Regions from separate parts of the Homo sapiens genome. Here region 1 is linked to region 2. The links come from fine-mapping of genetic effects on gene expression. Tissue or cell type: whole blood. Region 2 holds a variant in brackets; the other region holds the start of a gene. All regions are shown on one strand. Distances are between the middles of the regions.

Region 1 (8,111 bases), 46 kb after region 2:
AAAATTACTCGAGAATGACTTTAATTCATTTAACGACTCAAGAGTCACTTACATTTAACTTTGAAGAACAGAAAAAGGGTTTAAACCAGCTAAGAACTCTTTGAGTCAAAAATGGGGTGTTAAAGTAATGAACTATCTTTTCTTTCAGTGGTGTAAGAGTTACTCTAAAAAAAAATTCAAAATTACTTAAAGCCATGGCACTGACATTAGAATACCTTATTTTTTTTATTTGGTTTGAGTCTTTAAATAGTTTGAAAAAAGGACGCCAATTAAATGGTTTCTAAAGCTAGTTCAAGTGGTTTATGATTTATGCATACAAGTACAGAATCCCCTATAACCTCTTTCAAGAGTCAGTGATCATTAGGATAACTGAATTCTGATCCAATGTGATAAAATAAGCCTCATTACATTGTCACACTTCAAGAACAACATCACGGGGTTCTTCAGTTCCTCATTTCTTGCTGTCACAGAGGTAATCGCTGGGCGTCTTTTATTTCTATTAAATTAACTTTTGGTAAAGGAAAAGAATAACATCAATTATAAAAAATTTTTGAAACATAAGTTCAAAAACCTAAAGAAAAATTGATGATTCTTTTTCTGAGTTAAAATTTTTCTAATTATTGTAATTATTTTGAAACACTAAGATGCCAAGAGGTAAGAAAATTACTCCTGCCAGAAATTAACTGATGATATTGACACAATTCCCTGCTGCCTCCTTAATTCAGGGACACAAAACAAGCATACCATAAGGCACCCACGTGCTGCCTGGTACATTACAGTAGCTAATCAATGCAATTAGTCTTGTTAAGATAGAGAGTTCAAGAAGCCAAATTTCACCAATGTTGCAGCCAACATAAATCTTTTTAAATGCTATATTAGAACACACATGATTCTAACAGGAAATAGTAGTCCAAGCTGCCTTCGTGGAATAAAATAATAGCTACGTTCCCGATTTTTTGTATAAAAGCAGAAAATGAAGTGAGTTTCCTTCTCAGCACCATTCAGAAATGGTAAGAAGGAAAACAGGCTCATCTAGCCAACACAAATTTTCTCTCACATGCACCCTGACCTCTATGCTTCTAGTTAGTATCTGAATCCCAATGTTTCATGAAATTAGAAATTGCAAACTGGCTCTTAAATATGGGCTTAAAATATGTAAGTTATGTAATTTATTTCCAACTTTTTGGTGGCCGAACACTTCCAAATGGAAACCAAAAACAAAGCAAAATAAAACAAACAACAACAACAACAAAAAAAAACCCACAACATTTCTTTTAGAAATCATTGGCAACCTCTCAATCTCTTCAGTTTGAAGTGAATGGAATTCCAGCTCCTTCCAAACTCCTGTCACTCCATATATTCTCTAAAGAAACTAAATGGAATTTCTCTTAAAGGCTCTTATTTTCTGGAAACCTAGAAGTCCCTGAAATAATGGGATCTGGAATACAACAAATTACACAGCCATTGTAGGGATGTAACAGACCTAAATATTGTTTAGCTCATCCATCCTTAAGTTTAATGGAAATGGTGCAGCGTCTTCCCCACTGAATAACATCACGTTAATTATTTTTGAAGCCTGAGGAACAAACACAACTAACTGCCATCCAGGGATTACACAAATCCAAGGTGTAACACAATATGTTTTTACTAATTCATTTTAATACTTGCCTTCTCTCTCCCACAGAACTCACACACTGGATTAGTCTTGACTAGCAAAACCAGATCAGGAAAAAGAAAACTGTTATTTTGGTTTAGATGGGATAATTATTTTTGACTGTTTTGAGTCTTAGAAAAGCCAAAGCTCATTAACAACGTTAATATGAGAGACATTAGTCTGGATTGCTACATTATTTGTTCATGTGTTTGGGGTCATTTTGGAAATGGGAACATGAGTATGTAATATTGACATTTTCATTTTCGTTCAAATGTGTTTGAAACTGTTCAAAGAAATGTCTTCTTTCCAAACTGAACACATCATATTAAACGCTGAATTAGGGTTTACACAAGGATATTGACTTATGTCCTGGGATTCTCTGCATCTCCTCAAACCATCTTGTGGTTTTAAACTTCATGCATTAAAAGTGAGTACAAACAAAAGGGAAAAAACTGCATTTCTATTAGGTCTGTTATTTTGACTATTTAGATTAAACTGTATATTTTCTTTTCAGTCTTCCAGTTACCTTATAAAGGCAAGGAAGAACTGGTAGTTTGAAATAAAATAATTTCAAAAAGTGCTGTACCCCCTGAGTATTCTGCTGTAATAAGGTAAGCACCTTTCTCCTTTGTTGATGCAATCATTTACATCTTCACCCCGCAAACACCTGTCACATCCTTTTAAATATTTGTTTTTCCTTTTCCTAGGATGAAATCCCATAAGTCAATTTTTTCTCGGGATTGTGAAGTTCACTGCACACAACCAGCCTTATTTTACATCTCTTTCTTTTATTTCAACCATCTGGGGACTGGGCAGAAGTCATGGTCAGAGGGGCACATATGTATTGCTTTGATGATGGGGGCAGAGAACAAACAGGAAGAACTGGGAAATGAAAATTGCTTTACTTCTTATATTCTGACTAGAAAGGCAACCCAAATGGGAATCATAACAGGGATAGTTCAGTGGCAAAAAGACACCCTTAAAAATAGAAGCTAGAAGTTAAAGGAGGGGTGACATCACACTTTTAGAGTTGACATCAGAGGAAGTTGCATCTCTTGGTGCCATGTTATACATGCACCGTCGGGGCAGCAGAACTGATTAGTGTGCCCAGTTGCACAAAAGGACTGTAATGTGCATGGGCCCCAGTGTTAGCCATGTGACTCTGTTAATGGATCCAGCTTGATCTTTACGCTCTTCAACTAAGCTAGTGCCCAAGCAGTTCTTGTATTTCAGCTTAGAGGGGGTTCTGGAAAAGCTCTTGGTGATAGCATTTTTGGAGAACGGAGAGAAAAAAACATTTCTATTAAGTCTGCCTCAAAAAGTAGGAATTTCAGGTCAATGTTAAATGCCTGGCATGAGTTTTATATATATTTTTAATATTTCAGGCTTATTTTACCAAAAGAAAGCTGGTGTAACACGTTCACATCAGACAAAATAGGTATCAAAGCAAAAGGCATTAGAGATGAAGAGGATCACAGCACAGTGGGAAAAGGTTCAGTTCAGATATAGGTACATATTATATAAAGCAAAAATACACAGAAACAAAAGGAAAATAATTCGATATTTAAAGATATTAGGTTAAGTGAAATTTTTATAAGTCTTGAAAACAAATCAGAAACAGGTGAGACACAGGAAAATCATTTTTAGCAACAAAGTACTAAGAGGGTGCATGGACAAGGAAAACTTTTCCCTCCCTAAGCCCATACCTCTAGTTGATAATCTGTTCCCATCCCCAGGTCCCAGCAAACATTCTAAGACCCAAGAACAGGTTTACTGGGAGGAATTCGAGGCACTGCAGTTCATGTGCTGAGTTAAATAAGCTCTGGAAATAGAAGCTGAAGAATCACAATACCCAATCTAATTTAACCAAAGTCTAATTAGAGAATTTACCAGAAATTGAGAGACTTGCTAGACATAATTTCCTGTTAGGAAGTAGTATTTTTCTCCTTTCAAATTTTTAAATGTTTGGTATAATCAGCAAAATAGAAGTAAATTATCAATTTAAGCTTAACAGAGATATTTTGTTAAGTAATATCACAGTACCTTATAAATAAAAAATATTAATTATTTCCAGTTAGTCACACGTATTATTACTAATAATGAGTAAATACAAAAATATACACTCAAACAGAAAGAGCCAAACTGGCTCCCATAATAATAGTAGGTATTTTCCTAAGCCTTGTACACAGTAATAAATAAATAAATCTGCCACATCTTTACCATTCTTTAAATGACAAGCTGGGTTTTGATGAATTCCACTTTTTCAGTCAAAAATCATATTCATGATTTAAATTGTGCTGTATGAAATTGTCCCTTTTATTTCTGTATATTCTCAGATGAGATGCATACATATTGGTTCAAGACCTCTTGTTGCCTCTTTTTAACATTGTCTTTGTATCACTCGCAGCCCCCAAACAACAGGTTAAAACCAGCCCAACTGGTTAGTAAGATTGATTGAGAAAAAAGAAAAAGAAAAAAGTCAAAATAGTTTATACAATAAAACTATTAGGAGACTATGAAAAGTTCGCTAATGCATTCAATAGAACCTGAAAAAGAGCTAAATATGTACCTGCAACAGAGAGGAGGAGACTGACTGGCAGGAGACCTTGCAACATGCTGGGTGATTCCAGGAGCACGGTGTCTGCTCTTCTCGCTCAGGTGGGTGCTGCTGGGTCTGTCCCTGCCTCCTCTCCAGTGAGACAGAATGAAACTCCCTGGTTCATTCTTGTCTCTGATTCAGGAAGTGTTTACTAAAGGTGTTGCGCAACCTCGAAGCTGTGGTCCTGCAACAATGGCCCAGCAGGCGGAAGTCCTGGCTGCCTCCTGGCTCTAAGATTACTTGATCTGAACTATTGTTTTGCTCTCCTTTGCCATACTCCCCACTCCAAAGTAGTACATTTCCAACATATTACTATAGCCAGATAAGCTACAAGGAAAGAGGCAACTGCATTAATGAGTCTTGAAAAACATGCTAGACATTTATTTACATTACGGATATGATATATAAATATATGTTTAAATATATTTTTATATATATACAGTTGTAGGAAAAAAGTTATTAAGAATGTTATTTTTCCCCCACATACATAATGTGGTTATGTAAAGCAATTTCTAATTCAACCTAATTACTATATAGCATTCTCTTTTCCATTATTTTATGTTCTATTCCTCACACAAGTGTACTCTCAGGAAGTTTGAACTATCCTGAAATAAGAATGTCTGACAATATAAGCACAATAATTTTTAGATCCTTGGGGGTATTTGTGTCATAACTGGCAATGAGGAGTGTGGAAGAAGGATTCAAGACCCAAAGGATACAATTTTAGGATCTGTCACTGGTGGTAGTAAGGCTAAACTGGGCATGTCTAAAAATCATACTTATAACCAATAAAATAACTAATATCAACTGAGCTGCTTATTAAGTTTTAGGTACTGATAGGGTTTGGTTGTGTCCCTACCTGAATCTCATCTTGAATTGTAGCTCCCATAATCCCCATGTGTTGTGGGAGGGACCCAGTGGGAGATAATTGAATCAAGGGGCGGGCTTTTCCCATGCTGTTCTCATTATAGTGAATAAGTCTCATAAGATCTAATGATTTTATAAAGGGCAGTTCCCCTGCTCAGGCTCTCTTTGCCTGCCTCCATGTAAGATGTGTCTTTGCTCCTCCTTCACCTTCTACCATGAGAGTGAGGCCTCCCCAGCCATGTGAAACTGTGAGGCCATGAAACCTCTTTTTAATTTACCCAGTCTCAGATATTTCTTCGTGATAGTATGAAAATGGACTAATACAGGTACTCTCCTAAATCTACTGTACTTGTTATTTTATTAGTCTTTATGATACTCATGTATTATGCATTTACAATCATTTTGCAGGTGAAAATTTGGGGTTTTAAAGGCAAAATTCAAAAGATTAAGAATCAGTTGTCCCCTCATTGTATAGATTAAGAAGATTAAGCAGATAAAGTCACCTATCCAGTAAGTGGTAGAAGTGGAATCTGAACTATGTGTTGTCTGGGCTCTTAGTCATATACTCTAATGCTTTCCCTTGGCTTAGCTGACTTGTACTCCCAGTATCATTTCTATTGAAAAGATTCTGGGAGAATAGAAATAATTATGAAATTCCTAAGGAATAGAAATTACGCTGAGGACCAGTTATTACCACAAAACCTAGTCCTAGTCCACTAAAATCATGCATCATTTTACAGATTCTGAAACACATTCTCATACTAGAGGGATTACAGTGATTATTGATGTCTCCAAATGATTATACAGTCATCAACTAAAACCACAAAGGAATTTTTGAGTCTAGTTACTGAGCATTTTAACCATCAGGATTGCGATTCACAGATTTCTTGCCTTTTCAACCCAAGTTCCATTGCTTTGTCTTTTCCAGGGAACAGAAAGGATACTTCAACTTTTAATTATTACATATTTTTTCTCCATTAATTCAACGTAATTTTACTTACAGCTATTATGTGTCAGACACTGAGATTGCAGTTGAAAAAACACAATCATGGCCGGGAGTGGTGGCTCATGTCTGTAATCCCAGCACTTTGGGAGGCTGAGGCAGACAGACTACCTGAGATCAGAATTTGAGACCAGCCTGCCCAACATGGTGAAACCCCATCTCTACTAAAAAAAAAAAATTAGCTGGGTGTGGTGGTGGTCACCTGTAATCCCAGTTACTCAGGAGGCTGAGGTAGGAGAACTGCTTGATTGCTTGAACCCAGGAGGCAGAGGCTGCAGCGAGCTGAGATTGCAACAACACACTCCAGCCTGGGCAACAGAGCGAGACAGTGTCTCAAACAAACAAACAAACAAAAAACACAATCACTTTCATTGAGATGTTCACAATCTGACAAAGATAAGTTCAATTACCATAAAATTGCACAGAGTGAGTACCACCTATAAATGATCACAATATCACAAGGTGTTTAGTGTTACAATAGATTTATCAATAGAAGTCAGAGGTCTACACCAAACAGGGCAGGGAGTGCATCCTGGTGGCAGGAGTCCTGGGAAAAGGACTCCCTATTTCATAAATGGTGCTGGGATAGCTGGCTAGCCATATGCAGAAGAATAAAACTGGACCCCTACCTTACACCATATACAAAAATTAACTCAAGATGGATTAAAGATTTAAATGTAAGACCTCAAATTATGGAAAACCTAGAAAATGACATTCTGGACATTGGCCCTAGGAAACAATTTATAACTTAAGTCCTCAAAAGCAATTGCAATGAAAACAAAAATGGATGAGTGGGACCTAATTAAATTAAAGAGCTTCTGTAGAGCAAAAAGAAACTATCAGCAGAGCAAACCAACAACCTACATAACGGGTGAAAATATGAGCAAACTACACAGCTGACAAAAGTCTAATATCCAGAATCTATAAAGAACTTAAACAATTGAACAAGCATGAGATAAGTAACCTCATTTAAAAATGGGCAAAAGGGTGGGTGCAGTGGCTCATGCCTGTAATCCTAGCACTCTGGGAGGCCAAGGTGGGCAGATCACCTGAAGTCAAGAGTTCGAGACTAGTCTAGCCAACATAGTGAAACCCCATCTCTATTAAAAATACAAAAATTAGCCACGTGTGGTAGGCACCTGTAGTCCCAGCTACTTGGGAGGCTGAGGCAGGAGAATCACTTGAACCCGGAGGAGGAGGTTGCAGTGAACCAAGACTGCGCCACTGCACTCCAGCCTGGGTGACAGAGCAAGACTCCGTCTCAAAAAAAAAGAAAAAAAAAAAAAAAAAGGGTCAAAAGAAATGAACAGACACTTCTCAAAAGAAGAAATACAAGCAGTTAAAAAAACATGTGAAAAAATTGCCCAACATAACTAATTATCAGAGAAATGCAAATCAAAACAATGAGGTACCAACTCACACCAGCCAAAATGGCTATTACTAAAAAGTCAAAAAATAACAAATGCTGGTGAGGCCACAGAGAAAAGGAAACACACAATGTTGGTAGGAATGTAAATTAGTTCAGCCACTCTGGAAAGCAGTTTGGAGATTTCTCAAAGAAATTAAAACAGAACTGTCATTTGACCGAACAATCCGTTTACTGGATATATAGCCAAAAGAAAATAAATTATTCTACCGAGAAGACACATGCTTATGTTCATCACAGTACTATCCACAAGAGCAATGACATGGAATCAAGCTAGGTGCCCATCAGTGGTGGAATGGATAAATACAATGTGGTACATATATACCTTGGAATACTATGCAGCTATAAAAAAGAATTAAATTGTGTTCTTTGCAGCACATGGATCACCTAGAGGCCATTAACCTAAGTGAATTAATGCAGAAACAGAAAACCGGTACCTTACACCATATACAAAAATTAACTCAAGATGGATTAAAGATTTAAATGTCAGACCTCAAACTATGGAAAACCTAGGAAATGACATTCTGGACATTGGCCCTGGAAACAATTTATGACTTAAGTC
Region 2 (8,111 bases):
GATTGGCTCATCACCTGAGATCAAAATCCTAAGAATTTCTCCGTTTCTGCAAACAGAGGATGCAGGAACATGAACAGGAGGACAGAGGCTTCCTCTAGATACCTACACTATATCAGACAGAGAGGGGAGCGTCAATGAGATGATGATGAGAAAAAGCAGCTCTCTCAGGAGAAAATGTGGTGATGAGCTCCCTCCTCAGGGTAAAATGTTCCTCGTAACAACTGGAGGTGGGTCCCCACTCTGGCTCCTTCCCACCCTGAAGACCTATAGGCAGACCTGCCTACCTGCCCATAGAGCTCCCAGCCAGATTCCCCCATCAAGAGAAATATCAGTAGGTACAACAGCACACACAAATGCAGAGACATCCCGTGTGAACTAATCCAGCTCTACCAATTCCACATTGAACTAAGGATCACATATCCTGAAGAAAACTAGTACAACAGAATACAAGTGACGTGGTGACAACAGAACAAACCAACTCAAAAGAAACAGATAATTCAAAGAATAGAACTGAACATACAAAATAATAGGTCATATTCTTAGAGAGTTTTGAGGATATTACATTTTTCCATTAACTTGAGGCTGCTATGAAAATGGAAGAGTCCTAAAGTAAGAAAATTTGTGAAATTAAAATAAGATTACAAATATAAAGGTTGAGGAAATTTTTTTGCATGTGCAGTGAAAATGAAGACACGGAAAATATAATTAAAAGGTATTAAGGAGATTTGGGGGATAAATATTGTGGATTCAACATCAACAGAACAGAAATTTCAAGAACAGAGAAAAGAAGCAGTGAAATCTCATATAATACAAAATAAAGGCTTGGAAGAGGAGAGCAATTTTCTCAGGTTAGATGTGTAATGTTACCTACGGAAGACCACTGAGGAGTCATCGCAGTCGGGAGGGATCCATCCTTCCTCACATTGACACTGGAGCTCATGGTCACACACCTAGGGGAGCAATGATCCTGTTACTGTCCCCGCTAGGCTGACCAGAAACTCAAGGCCCTACTCATCCATAATAAAGTTCATGCAGAAAAAGGAATAACCCCAGTCTCCAGGCTTCCATCTATCTACAAAAAGTATGAGTGAATGAGAGGCATTTCATGAATGATTCCCAGAAGAAATTTCTCCTTGAACCATGCTACTGAAGGCTTGGATAAACTTAGTAATTATCATCATTTAAAGCTGAAAATATTCCTTTAGCTTTCTTATGACTGACCTAGAATGTCATAAGATTCAGAGAGCTTAGGGAAACATATTTTCAGAACTTACAGCATGTCCTTTGCACTTAGATGAGCAATTGGTTGATTTGTAGGCTTTCTCAATATCCACACATTCTGCATTAATGCAAACCTGAAAGTGATGTAGAAAACATGAAGCTTCATCTTCTCTGAACGTAGATGAGAAAGTTGAGGTCTGTGTGAAGAGGCTAGCAGATGTTGTTTAAGGTGGCTCTGCCAGGAGGCTGATGTAGAAGAAGGGAAACAGAGACGGGCTCTGTTGCTTACATTATCCTCTTAGTTAAACCAACCCAAAAAGGTTGATAAAGTCTATCTAAGAATTTATGTATTTTTAAAAATCCAAACAACTGTATATCCCAGAAGCAATGACTATGCAAGAAGTTAAGGGATAAGCAATAATGAGATGATCTTAATGCCAGGGGACCCAGAAACATCTCAATTCTGCCCTAGTCCCAGTACTTCCCTCCCTTAAGGCCCAAGCACTGCAACATCCATGCCAGGTCATGTGATAATGTCTCAATGTCTTTAAAGGCTTCAGCACTAGAAAATACAAGGAAATTAGTAAAACCTGGAAAACGCAGTTAAATATTATATTTTATATAAAATTCCTTGCCCTTGATGCTAGCATATGTTTCAGGAAAAATGGGGGAAAAGAATAAGTTTAAATACTGTGGGTACTTCTTATAGGCAAGACCTAATATTTTAATGTCAAATCAGCAGATTTATAAACATTGCTAAATTTTTATTTTCAGCTCCAGGGGTTCAGAGACCACGTATAAGCAATACCCACACTGAACCACTTAGATAATTTTGGACTCATCATTGGATAAATTAATATTTAAATAGCCAAATCAGTTTAAGTAAATAGGATAATATTCTGAGGATTGGCTTTACCACAGTGAAAAATCAGGGGAACTCTTTGGTCATGTGGATATCTTAGTGAATATATAAAGAGGGTAATTCTAATCTCTTAAGAGAGACAAACCTCATGGTCAAAGTTCGTGAATTGATTGGCCCTGGCTAAACAGTACTCGTATTTAAGTTCATTATATTATTAATGATATACAGATCTGTTAAATGAAGCCCAGTATCACATACACTGGCACTTTCAGTGAGTTTTCAGACTTCGTCTATGAAAGTTAAACGGATGCTACTGTGTGTTATCTGCATGACGATATGATACTCTTCTTGAAATAATGACTATGAGAGTCAATTATTTCCAAATTTCACCACAGTGTTTGAGAATGTTAATGTCAGTGCTTATTCCTGCTATTTACTAGGTTCTGCGCCATTTTCATTTCTGTGTTCCAAATTCAAACTCTGTGGGTTCTATTAAGGCATGGCGAACCCCAAAATCGGGAAACAAGGCACATAGTGAATAACCGAGGGGCAAAACAACAAAGCACACCAAAGTAAAAAACACTATTTTGAGTGAAAGCCACAATTTCAACTTACCTTGTTATCGCCACACTTAGTTCCATTGGCCACCATGCCTATTTCTTGACTTGTGTCTTCAGGATCAAATGTTTTACATGTCAGGAAAGTCACTATCCGTCCTTTCCAGGGCAAATTATCCGACCCACCTTGACAGAACAACTTCCCACACATGGTATCACTGAGGAAAAAGCCAAAATGTATTGCAGGATTCAAATTGCAGTTTTACATAAATGCTCTAGGACTATGGATATTTAACTGATGGTATTTTTCCCTGTAGCCGAGACTCTTAGTTGTACTTTACACTCATTTTCCCTTATTTCTCAGTAATAGGATGCCTGAACGTTAGCACAATATATTATTGCTCAAATAAACAGTATTACCTAGATCCCTGTACACCTAATTTTTGCCAGTTGCCGAAGTGCTGGCCCATGAGAAGAAAACAGAATCTTAAGCACAAATTCTAGAAGGTGGCCTTAAATGAGGAATTATCTTCTATTTCTCAACATTTTCTCATTTTTTGCTGATTGGAGTATGATAGCTAGAGAAGCTATCATAGGCCTAGAGAAACACATGGAAATGAAAGTCATGTGGATGATGGAGCTAGAGGATAAAACATGGATTCCTAACATCATGGAGGCATCTGAGACATCAATTTCTAGCTTGTTTCAGATAGGTTACTCATTTATTTGTACAACTGGCTGCAGAATAATTCCACCAAAAGAAAGCCCAAGTCTCCACTATAATGCTGTCAGAACAAAGCTGAGCCTCCCTTGACACTGCAAGGCATCAGGTGGAGTTACTAAAAGAACTGTCTCCCTGAAGGTGCAGATTAAACTGCTCAACACTCACTCAAGCCATTCATTTACTGCCAACAGGACTAAAAGACAATAAAATGGAAGTCAATTGCTTTATGTAGAATTCGGAAGAGGGCTGTGAAAAAAGTATCCAGAAAGTGATGGCATCAGATTTTTTGATCTCTCTTGGCTGTAGAAAATATGTTTGAGGAGTGGAGAAAGGCATATATTCTCTCAAAATATGAGAGTGTGTTTTTCTTGAATCACTTAGGTAAAGCGATAAAGGATGGTTTAGGGCACAGGGAATTTCAGGCTAACTCTTCACTATAGCCAATGACTACTGAGAAGTGACTAGGAGGGTAGTTTGTGGGGTGAAGGAGCTGCTTGAGCCACTAGAGCACAGAAACTAATGCTCATGCAAAGAGTTATATGGGACACTGTTGTGTGCACAGACTGCAAAGGAAAGATGGCGAGACCCACTCTCTTCCCATTCACCACCTACAATTGCCCTTCCTCTGGCCCTCACATACTGCCTTTTACATAATTTCCTCTTTTGAATCTGCCCTGGTTTCCTATAAAGAAGAGACCACAAGACCACCGAAAATGATTGTTCTTTAGGCACAGATTCTCCCAAGAGATAACCCTATATCCAAAGTATAGTTTGGTAATACCTGTCATTCAGAGAAATTCGTGTCCAATAGACAAACTTTGGGAAATGTTGATCTTGTGCAACCTCTTGTTATATATTATTTGGTATGTGTAAAATTTAGAGCAGGTACAAAGAGTTTAATCTATAATTGGATTTTAAAACTCATCTCAAAATTGCAGAATTAAACCATAGAAAAATCCCAAGTTCTTCTGGTGTGCTGTTCTATAGTGTTTTCCCGGATATCAGTACTAAAACTAACAAACTCTTCAGATGAATTGTCAATATTTTCATATTGTATTTTTTCTTTATGTAATTCTACTGAAAGTTTAAAAAACTGTTCAAGCACTGCATCTGTTATTCCTCTGGGTAGATAAATATTTCTACTCTGAATCTTACAAGGAAAAACATGAGATTGAGAAAGCATCTGATTTATACTGGGAAATCCCTGGACAAATTTCTAACCAGACCCATTCTTTGTGGCATGTTCCATCACAACCATTCATTCTACCCAACAATGACTGTGCTTTGTGTCATCTGAAGCACCCACCATGAGATACTTGAAGAAAGAAGCCATTTCTTATTTGTTGTTTTAGACTCGGTACCTAGCCCACATCATGGCACATAGTAGTTACTCAATAAATGTTTGTCAAATGATTGATGACCAAATGCACTTTCCCTTTAACTGGAATAAATCAGAATGTGTAGCTGGAAGTGTACCATTGCTCTAGTCTGTGAAGCAGGAAGGTTCAGACAAGGCCACTTACTTTGCTTTGCAGGGAATGAGTGTGTCATCCACTCTGCGACAGTACCCGTACTTTGACCCACCTTCATTCCTGTTGTAACATGACTTATCTGCAACCTCAGTTCCTGGGACCAGGATCAGTCAGCAGGGAAAAGAAAATAGATTT[T/C]TGAGATTCAAGAGATACTTGAAAATAAAAGATTTTAAAGATTCAGTGCTGGAAAGCGATTTATAAAATATAAAACAAGCAAGAAAAATACTATTTTAGCATAATTCCATTGACCACTCCTAGAAACATAGGCTGTAGTAATTTGGTATCAAATGAGCTGGCTGGAATTACAAATAATCTTTTAAATAATCTGTTACTCTGTAACAAACTCCTACTATGTGCTAGGTACAAAAATAGGCATCACATATTTCATGTCTCAGGTAATCTTCCTCAGATCTCCATCAGACAAAACACATTGTTAAGAGCCCAGGCTTCAAGCAAGACTGAGTAACTGTGTGAACATGGGCAAGTGTCTTAACCCCTCAGTTTTCTCATCTGTAAAATAAGGATATATAATTTATATTTATGTGAACATATATATTTAATATTTACACATATATAAAAGTATATATATACACATTATATATGACAGTACCTACCTCAAAGAGCTGTTTTGAAGATTAAATTACTTAATATAGGTGAGCCACTGAGAACAGTGCCTGGTCAGCAGTACATGGTTGACAAATACTAGCCATTCTTATTGCCATTCTCAATTTATTAATAAGGAAACAGAATCCTATCAAGTCACAGAGAAAGACCTATGTTCCTTCTCTGTGCTGAGGTACCCTCTCTTCAAGAACAAGTAATTCTGTCTTAAACGTTTGGAAATTTTGAGTCTAGCCTTTGACAAACAGCAAGCTAAGTTAAAATAAACACCTATGAAGATACGGCATTGTTTTTAAGAAATACTTTTAAACGAATTTCATGTTTCAATGTGTAAGATAAAATGAGTTTTGTTACTTTTTATTATTTGTATCTTAGTAAAATGTATTCATGTTTTATTATAATACAATATCTACATGGAAGAAAAGAATCATTAGTCATGAATAATCAGGGAAAAGCATGATATTCCTAATCTACATGGAAGAAAAGAATCATTAGTCATGAATAATCAGGGAGAAGCATGATATTCCTAATCTGAGACTTCAGAGTTATTGCTGCTGATATTGCAGAAGGTATCATTCATATATCTGGCATCATGCTGTTTTATAACTTCTTGCCAATTAACAATATAGCTGTCCTTTCCCCAGGCATTAAATTTTCTAAAGCATCACAGCTGCAAAAATTGTATTGAATTAATGCACTTTATTTAACTAATCCATATATTTTGGATTTTGAGATGTTTTTCAGTTATCCACTATCATTAAAAAATGCTGGTTGAAAAATCCTCATAATTATTTGAGTACAATTGCTAGGAGAAGGAGTAAAAAACAATTATTTTTAGATTTTGTGTATGCATTTTTCTGTCCGTAAAGATGATGCTAACTTGTGTATTTACCAGCAGTGTACGAAGGGAGTTGTTTGGTTATGTTTTCTGTGACACTGAACATTAACATCTGTAGCAAACTTTTGCCAATTAGCAAATGTAGAAGATTAACTTGTTTTCATTCAGGTTTTGTATATTGCTAATGAGTTAAAATGATTTTAATTTTACAGGACATTTGTATTTCTTCTTTATGACAAATTGCCTGCTTATGCCTTAGCCACATTTTCAATACTTGGAATTAGAATTGATTTGTGGGAATGATTTGATGCCAAAAAGAATGATTTTTAAATTACTTACAAAGTTGCAAGACTTTTCAAACTTCCCAGATTAATTTAAAATAAATACGTGATCCTCTGTGAATTATAAAATTTGGAATTTTGTTTAGGCAAATTGTTTTCTCTGGCCTTTTATAATGGCTGTATTTAAATGTATGACTTAAGAGGTCTACTCCATTTCCTGATCAGATAAATATGTTCAATGTTAATTCAATAGACAATTTTGAGCTTTTTACTAAAGCCAGACACTGTGCTGGGAGGCACTGGGAATACAACTGTGAACAATGTAGACAATGTCCCTGTTCCAGGAAGTTTACAGATTTGCCGAGGAGACTAATCATAAAGTCGGACAAAGGAGGGAGGAGGGTAACAGTTAATATTGTTTGCAGTTAATATTTACTACAAGATAATAAAGGTGATGCTCAGAACTTCACCTCTGTGCTAAAGATTTTCTTTCTCCTGGTTTTTGCCGTATACTGAAGTTAGCCAAGGAAACATGAGCTTCTTAACCAACAATCAATTTTGTTTCCACCTTTAACCTGGCGCATCCACGAAGTGGAGGCAAGATTGCTGAGGCCTGGTTCCAGGATACTAGTGAGCTTGCTGACATACTAAGGGAATTGAGCTTTGCTCCTCAAATTGTGTCTCAACCCGCTGTAGCCAAAGACAGAGAAGTTTACAGGGAGGTTTTTCTAGGGTCTTGTCTATTTGTTTCCCAGGTTTCTTGTTTTCACAGTGCATTGCAAGTTAGGAATTTTTGTTGATTTTCTCAATCTTGTTTTAGCTCTGTTTTCAGGAATTATGAAAAGTTTCTGGCACGCAATGACCCCTTTCAAATAATAGGACTATGTAGATTTTCTCTATTTTAATAAATATTGTTTCAGTCATTTAAGTAGGAGTCTGAAACTATTAGGAAGGGAGTATGGCAATTAAATACATGTACATCATACACATCATATCCAGAAAGTCCAAATAACTGGTTTTTAAAAACTTGCCTTTTTTTTTCAACTTAAATTTTGTATCCTCTGACCAACATCTCCCCACCTCCTCCCTGTCACACCCTGGAAACCAGCATTGTACTTTCTGCTTCTATGCGTTCAACTTTTTTAGATTTTAGGTATATAAGCTAGATCACTTATGATCTAAAATTGACTTTCTAATAAAGTTATTTTTCTTTTTTTTTCTTTTTTTTTTTTTTTTTTTGGAGACGGAGTCTGGCTTTGTCACCCAGGCTGGAGTGCAGTGGCACGATCTCTGCTGACGGCAAGCTCCGCCTCCTGGGTTCAGGCCCTTCTCCTGCCTCAGCCTCCCGAGTAGCTGGGACAGGCGCCCACTAGCACGCCCGGCTAATTTTTTGTATTTTTAGTAGAGACGGGGTTTCACCGTGTTAGCCAGGATGGTCTTGATCTCCTGACCTCGTGATCCGCCCGCCTCAGCCT

What was found. PIP is the estimated chance that this variant, and not a neighbour inherited with it, causes the effect.
Region 1: it holds the start of ADAM28, and the variant in region 2 is fine-mapped to the expression of ADAM28 in whole blood (TOPMed, PIP above 0.99).

Annotation. Positions count from the first base shown.
Region 1 is chr8:24,290,308-24,298,418 of GRCh38, reverse strand. It overlaps ADAM28 (ADAM metallopeptidase domain 28), which reads right to left and starts at 4,350. Exons shown (of 23, transcript NM_014265.6): 1 at 4,224-4,350. The coding sequence starts at 4,269. ADAM7-AS1 (ADAM7, ADAMDEC1 and ADAM28 antisense RNA 1) reads left to right here. Exons shown (of 6, transcript NR_125808.1): 5 at 2,169-2,265; 6 at 2,362-2,605.
Region 2 is chr8:24,336,345-24,344,455 of GRCh38, reverse strand. It overlaps ADAM28 (ADAM metallopeptidase domain 28), which reads right to left. Exons shown (of 23, transcript NM_014265.6): 15 at 4,888-4,990; 16 at 2,699-2,858; 17 at 1,275-1,355; 18 at 872-950. The region is part of intron 3 of ADAM7-AS1 (ADAM7, ADAMDEC1 and ADAM28 antisense RNA 1); the gene reads left to right. Among named protein-coding and RNA genes, the nearest start is that of ADAMDEC1, 44 kb to the left of the region's middle. The variant T/C (reference allele first, on the strand shown) is at 5,032.